Linked DNA regions of Homo sapiens. The protein of the gene in region 1 interacts with the protein of each later gene in a biochemical or structural test. Each region holds a gene or a part of one and is shown on either strand. Other genes may lie near its edges.

The links.
Region 2: the proteins of USP8 (region 1) and NBR1 form a complex in vitro, tested with the Homo sapiens proteins (one study listed by BioGRID).

Annotation. Positions count from the first base shown.
Region 1 is NC_000015.10:50,511,308-50,515,148, reverse strand, and holds the end of USP8 (ubiquitin carboxyl-terminal hydrolase 8), read right to left. Parts: 3' UTR 728-3,841; downstream 1-727. UniProt on the Homo sapiens protein: Hydrolase that can remove conjugated ubiquitin from proteins and therefore plays an important regulatory role at the level of protein turnover by preventing degradation. Converts both 'Lys-48' an 'Lys-63'-linked ubiquitin chains.
Region 2 is NC_000017.11:43,195,188-43,199,011, forward strand, and holds part of NBR1 (next to BRCA1 gene 1 protein), read left to right. Parts: intron 1-1,293; coding exon 1,294-1,404; intron 1,405-1,754; coding exon 1,755-1,919; intron 1,920-3,824. UniProt on the Homo sapiens protein: Ubiquitin-binding autophagy adapter that participates in different processes including host defense or intracellular homeostasis.

The DNA.
Region 1 (3,841 bases):
ATTGAACAGGAAAACCATCTGGTCTTGGAATTTCGTTTTTCTTGGTGGGTAGATTTTAAAATACTGACTCAGGCTGTTTTAGCTATTATAGGTCTAGTCAAGATTTCTATTTCTTCATGTTTTTTAAAAAATACTTTTTTTTTTTTTTTTTTTTAGACTGTGTCTCTCTCTTTTTCCCAGGCTGAAGTAGTGGTGCACAATCTCGGCTCATTGCAACCTCCACCACCTGAGCTCAAGTGATTCTCGCATCTCAGCCTCCTGAGTGGTTGGGACGACAGGCAAGTGCCATCATGCCCAGCTAATTTTTTAAAAAAATTTGTAGGCCAGGGGTGGTGGCTCACGCCTGTAATCCCAGCACTTTGGGAGGCTGAGGCAAGCAGATCACGAAGTCAGGAGATGGAGACCATCCTGGCCAACATGGTGAAACCCCATCTCTACTAAAAATAAAAAAAATTAGCTGGGTGTGGTGGCATGCGCCTGTAATCCCAGCTACTTGGGAGGCTGAGGAAGAATCACTTGAACCCAGGAGGCGGAGGTTGCAGTGAGCCGAGATCGCGCCGCTGCACTCCAGCCTGGTGACACAGCGAGACTCCCATCTCAAAAAGAAAAAAAATTGTAGAGAAGGGTTTCTCCATGTTCCTCAGGCTGCTGTGGAACTCCTGGGCTTAAGCAGTCGGGCTGCCTCGGCCTCTCAAAGTGCTGGGAATACAGGTATGAGACACTGCCCTTGACCAAAAATAAACTTTATTGAAGTGAAACATATATACAGAAAAGTACACAAACCATGAGGATAAAACTTGATGGATTTTCAAGTGAACATACCCATGTAACCAGCAGAACAGAGTTTAAACAGAATGTTACCAGCACCCTAACTGTGCTTGTACCTGCCTTCGAGTCTGGAAAACCACTGACTTCTGGCAGGACAGATTTATAGATTTTTGCCTGATTTTATGCTTCGTATAAATGGAATTGTACAGTATATCCTTTTTTTGTGTCTGGCTCCTTTCATTCAAAATTATGTAATGTTCATCCATATTGTTGTTTATATTGTAATTTATTCATTCTCATTGCTGTATAGTATTCCATTGTATGAAAATACTACAATTTAGTAATTCATTCTACCATTCAGGAACTTTTGGGTAATTACTAGCTTTTGACTAATGCAAAGAGGGTTGCTATAAACATTCTTGTTTTTTGGTGAACATAGTGTACACAGTTCTTTTGAGTACATACCTAGGAGTGAAACTCCTGGTTCAGAAATACGCATATGTCTGGCTTTAGTACATACTGCTCAGTAGCTTTCCAAAGCGACTGTACCAATTCATACCCCCACCAGCAATGACTGGAAGTTTCAGTTGCCTTAAATCCTTGTTAACACTTGGTAGTCTTTTGTTCGTTTTGTTTTGGCCCTTCTGGTTGCCCATATAGTAGAATGGCATTGTGGTTTAAATAACTACTTAAATTTGTATACTTTCTTTTGTGAAATGCCTAAACAAGTCTTTTATTCTTTTTCCTATTCTGTGGCCTGCCTTTTTCTTATGGAATTGTAGTTCTTTTTAAATCTTGAGTGTACATTTTTAAATTACCTTCTGTGGCTTGATTCTTCACTCTTTTTTTTTTTTTTTTTTTTAGACAGTTTCGCTCTTGTCTCGAACTCATGACCTCAGGTGATCCACCTCCCTCATCCTCCCAAAGTGCTGGGATTACAGGTGTGAGCTACCGCGCCAAGCATACTTTTTCATTAAATATTTTAAAGATATATCCATATTGTTGCATGTGGTTATAATTTCACTAGCCTATGATGTATATTGTGTGAATATATCATAAATTATCCATTTTCCTATTGATATTTCATTGTTTCCAAATTTTTGCTGGCATGAACAACATTATGCAGACATTCCTGCATATATATGTGCATAAGAGTTTCTCTCATGTATATACTTAGGAGTGAGGTCACTTAGATCATAAAGTATGTGCATATTTAACTTTCTACAAGTGATTATACCAATACATACCCCTACCAGGATCATCAGACTTCTTAATTTTTGCCATCTAATGGATACAAAATTATCTCATTTTAGTTTTTCCTATTGTATGAAATATTTGTCTTTTGCACATTTTTTACAAACTGGGTTATTTTTCTTCTTATTGATTGGAAAGAGTCATTTACATGTTCTAGATCCTTGTTATATGTTACATGGGTTAGAAATAACTTTTTTGTTTTTGGTTTGTTGTACATGATCTTTTTGTTTCCCAACTTAAATAAAAAGAAGTTCTTAGAGATAGTTCACATACCACAGAATTCACCTTAAATGTGTTCAGTTGTGTTTTTTGTTGTTTTTGTTTTGTTTGTTTTTGAGACAGAGTCTGGCTCTGTCGCCCAGGCTGGAGTGCGGTGGTGTGATCTCGGCTCACTGCAACCTCCACCCCCTGGTTTCAAATGATTCTCATGCCCCAGCCTCCCAAGTAGCTGGGATTACAGGTGCACCACCATGCCTGGCTAATTTTTAAAAATATTTTTAGTAGAGATGTGGTTTCACCATGTTGGCCAGACTGGTCTGGAACTCCTGACCTCAAGTGATCTGCCCATCTCAGGGCCTCCCAAAGTGCTGGGATTACAGGTGTGAGCCACTGTGCCTGGCCAGTTCAGTAGTTTTTAGTACATTCACAGAGTTGTGCAGTTATCACCACAGTCCAGTTTTAGAACATTTTCGTTATCCCCAAAAGAAACCCTGTAACCCGTTCCTTCTCCCCCAGTCCATAGCAACTACTAGTCTTCTCACGTGCACTCTCTCTCGATCTCTCGCTATTTTTTTTTTTTTTAACAGAGTCTTGCTCTGTTGCCCAGGCTGGAGTGCAGTGGCATGATTTCAGCTCACTGCAACTTCCGCCTCCCAGGTTCAAGGGATTCTCGTAACTCAGCCTCCCGAGTAGCTGGGACTACAGGTGTATTTTTGTATTTTTAGTAGAGGTGGGGTTTCACCATGTTGACCAGGCTGGTCTTGAACTCCTGACCTCAAGTGGCGCACCCACCTTGGCCTCCCAAAGTGCTCGGATTACAGGCATGAACCACTTCTCCTGGCCTCTACTTTATATATTTCTATAGATGTGCCTATTCTGCGTATTTTTAAAATTTTATTTATTTTATTTTTTGAGACAATATCTCACTCTTGCTCAGGCTGGAGTGCAATGGTGCAATCTCAGCTCACTGCAGCCTCAACCTCCCTGGCTCAAGTGATCTTCCCTCCTCCCTCCCTCGAGTAGCTGGGACCACAGGTGTGCACCACCATGCCCCAATAATTTTTGTGTATTTTGGTTGAGATGGGGTTTTGCTATATTGCCCAGGCTGGTCTCAAACTCCAGACGTCAAGTGATCCACCTGCCTCGGCTCCCCCAGGTGCTGGGATTACAGGCGTGAGCCACAGTGCCTGGCCTATTCTGGGTATTTTAATAAACAGAATCATAGAATATATGACCTTCTGTTTTTATTTTCTTTTATTCAGCATAATGTTTTCAAGTTTCATTCATGTCATAGCATGTATCTGTACTTCATTCCTTTTTATTGCCAAATAATATTCCATTGTATAGGATATACCACATTTCCTTAATCCATCCAGTGATGGACATTTGGCTTGTTTCCACTTTTGGCTGTCATCAGTAATGCTGCTATGAACATTTATGTACAGGATTTTCTGTAAACATGTTTTCATTTCTGTTGGGTATATACCTAAGTGTGAAATTTCTGGGTCATATGGTAACTCTGGTTAATTTTTTGAGGAACTGCCAAATTGTTTTCCAAAGTGGCAGCAGCATTTTACGTTCCCACCAGCAACTGGAACTA
Region 2 (3,824 bases), on another chromosome or scaffold:
CTTCTTTCCTGTCCTTTGTCAAAAGTAACAACATGCTGGGCATGGTGGCTCGTGTCTATAATCCCAGCTCTTTGGGAGGCCAAGGCAGGAGGATCACTTGAGGCCAGGGTTTGAGACCAGCCTGGGCAACATGGTGAAACCCCCATCTCTACAAAAATTACTTTTAAAAATTAGCTGGGTGTGGCCAGGCACGGTGGCTCACGCCTGTAATCCCAGCACTTTGGGAGGCTGAGACGGGCAGATCACCTGAGGTCGGGAGTTTGAGACCAGCCTGACCAACATGGAGAAACCCCTTCTCTACTAAAAATACAAAATTAGCTGGGCATGGTGGCACATGCCTGTAATCCGAACTACTCGGGAGGCTGAGGCGGGAGAATTGCTTGAACCCAGAAGGCGGAGGTTGTGGTGAGCTGAGATTGCACCATTGCACTCCAGCCAGGACAACAAGAGCAAAACTCCGTCTCAAAAAAAAAAAAAAAAAAAATTAGCTTGGCATGGTGGCCTGCACCTGTGGTCCCAGCTACCAGGGAGACTGAAGTGGGAGAATCTCCTGATCCCAGGAGGCAGAGGCTGCAGTGAGCCAGGATTGTGCCATTGCTCTCCAGCCTGGATGACAGAGTGAAACCCAATCTCAAAAAACAAACAAAAAAAAGAGGCTGGGCACGGTAGCTCACGCCTGTAATCCCAGCACTTTGGGAGGCCAAGGCTGGTGGATCACAAGGTCAGAAGTTCAAGACCAGCCTGGCCAAGATGGTGAAACCCCATCTCTACTAAAAATACAAAAATTAGCCAGGCATGGTGGCAGGTGCCTGTAATCCCAGCTACTCGGGAGGCTGAGGCAGAGAGTTGCTTGAACCTGGGAGGCGGAGGTTGCAGTGAGCCGAGATTGTGCCACTGCATTCTAGCCTGGGTGACAGAGCAAGACTGCATCTCAAAAAAAAAAAAAAAAGCAATAAAACAAGTTCGTGCAAGGCTTTTCCACTATAAAGGAATCCTCTTCTCTTTTTTCCCTCTAGATACTTGTGTCCTTTTGTTCCTTTATGTTCATGGTTTTGTGTCTTGGCCACAGCTTTCCAGGCTAAATAACTGTGATTCTTCCTGCATTGATTGATCTGAGATATTTTGCTTACTTATTGGTCTGGAGAAATTTTTTGTAACAGACCTCAAAGCATATCTTGGTTTATTTTAGCCCTGCGGGAGGCAAGAAGCCTACAAACTGCTACTTCTGGACACTGACTGTTGATGATATGATGCTTTCTCTTGATTGATGGTTCTCCTGTCTTCATTCTCCAGATGTGACTCCCTGCATGTCTCCTCTGCCACATGACAGTCCTTTAATAGAGAAGCCAGGCTTGGGGCAGATAGAGGAAGAGAATGAAGGGGCAGGATTTAAAGCACTTCCTGGTAAGGGATTAAACATTTGTAAAGTATTTGCATCCTCCCTTTCCATATCATACCCTATTTTACAGCTATCCCCTACTGACCCTACCTTAGCATGTAAATGGGCTTGCTTTCTGTAGCATCTCATGTTTTGAAGTCTCCTCACCTTCACATGGCACAGATAGCAGCTATTCCTTGGTTTAGTTTTAGCATGGGTAATGACTGGTGAATGTTCTTCAGCACTTTAAACACCAAGTGCAGACAAAGTTTAGATAGCAGCTATTCCTTGGTTTAGTTTTAGCATGGGTAATGACTGGTGAATGTTCCTCAGCACTTTAAACACCCAGTGCAGATAAGGTTCGTGTGTCTTTCAGATTCTATGGTGTCAGTAAAGAGGAAGGCTGAGAACATTGCTTCTGTGGAGGAAGCAGAAGAAGACCTGAGTGGGACCCAGTTTGTGTGTGAGACAGTAATCCGATCCCTTACCTTGGATGCTGCCCCAGACCACAACCCTCCTTGCAGACAGAAGTCCTTGCAGAGTGAGTGTCCTTGCATTTCCCCTACCTAGCAGGGTGGCACCTGAATTGTGACTGCCAGACTTGACTAGTTAGATGTGCTCTTCTTCACTGAGACTGAAGGGAGAGTGATCTTAGTTAGAAGTTCTGATCTTGGCGGGGCGTGGTGGCTCAAGCCTGTAATCCCAGCACTTTGGGAGGCCAAGGCAGGCGGATCACAAGGTCAGGAGATCAAGTCCATCCTGGCTAACATGGTGAAATCCCATCTCTACTAAAAATACAAAAAATTAGCCTGGCGACGTGGCGGGTGCCTGTAGTCCCAGCTACTCGGGAGGCTGAGGCAGGAGAATGGCATGAACCCGGGAGGCGGAGCTTGCAGTGAGCCAAGATTGCGCCACTGCACTCTAGCCTGGGCGACAAAGCGAGACTCCATCTCAAAAAAAAAAAAAGAAATTCTGATCTTGTTTGTGTCTTTAGACTCTACGTATGCTACCTGACTGTTCTAATTAGAGCATCAGGAGTAAAGAAGCCATCATACTCATTTCTCCATCTTCTCAGGGGCAGAATTACAGCTGCATTCCACAGTGGAATAGCAGCCAGTTGTGCTGCCTGGATTCTGCAGTAAGGAATCTTCCTGTAATTTGACAGAGCTCCTTAGCAGAGACCCCTATGGGTAGCTGAGTTGTCTGCTTTCTCCAAGGGCAGCAGTCCCAGAAACAGTGGATAGAAGCAGGAGTACCAACAAAGTTTCTCAAGGTTAAATTCTGCTGTAATAAATACCTTTATAGGCCGGGCACAGTGGCTCACCCTTGTAATCCTAGCACTTTATGAGGCTGAGGCGGGTGGATCACCTGAGGTTGGGAGTTCGAGACCAGCCTGACCGACATGGAGAAACCCCATCTCTACTAAAAATACTAAAAATTAGCCAGGTGTGGTGGCTACATGCCAAGGATTACATGCCTGTAATCCCAGGTACTTGGGAGGCTGAGGCAGGAGAATCACTTTAACCCGGGAGGCGAAGGCTGTGGTTAGCCGAGATGGCGCCATTGCACTCCAGCCTGGCAACAAGAGTGAAACTCCGTCTCAAAAAAAAAAAAAGGAATAAATACCTTTATAACAGAAACTTCTAGGTATCAGATAGATAGAACCAATAGCATATATTTTAAGAAGTATCCAAAAATTCAAATATACTATGTCAAAATAATATTGGAGAATCTCTTTATTATAATCAAATTTGACCTATATCTTTAAATATTATTTATCTTACTTTTGTTTAAAGTATACATGTAAGGCCAGGCGCAGTGGCTCACGCCTGTAATCCCAGCACTTTGTGAGGCCGAGGCGGACAGATCACAAGCTCAGGAGTTTGAGACCAGCCTGACCAACATGGAGAAACCCCATTTCTACTAAAAATACAAAAATTAGCTGGGCGTGGTAGCGTGTGCCTGTGATCCAGCTACTCAAGACGCTGAGGCAGGAGAACTGCTTGAACCCGGGAAGCCAAGGTTGCAGTGAGCTGAGATCGCACCACTGCACTCCAGCCTGGGTGACAGAGCGAGACTCCGTCTAAAAAAAAAAAATAATAAAGTGTACATGTGGCCAGGTGCGGTGGCTCATACCTGTAATCCCAGCACGTTGGGAGGCCGAGGTGGGCGGATCATGAGGTCAGGAGATGAAGACTATCCTGGCTAACACGGTGAAACCCCATCTCTACTAAAAATACAAAAAATAAGCTGGGTGTGGTGGCGGGCGCACCTGTAATCCCAGCTACTCGGGAGGCTGAGGCAGGAGAATGGCGTGAACCTGGGAGGTGCAGCTTGCAGTGAGCTGAGATCATGCTACTGCACTTCAGCCTGGGCAACAGAGTGAGACTCCATCTCAAATCAATCAGTCATGTATATCTTTATATTTTTTTCCACATGTGTGTAC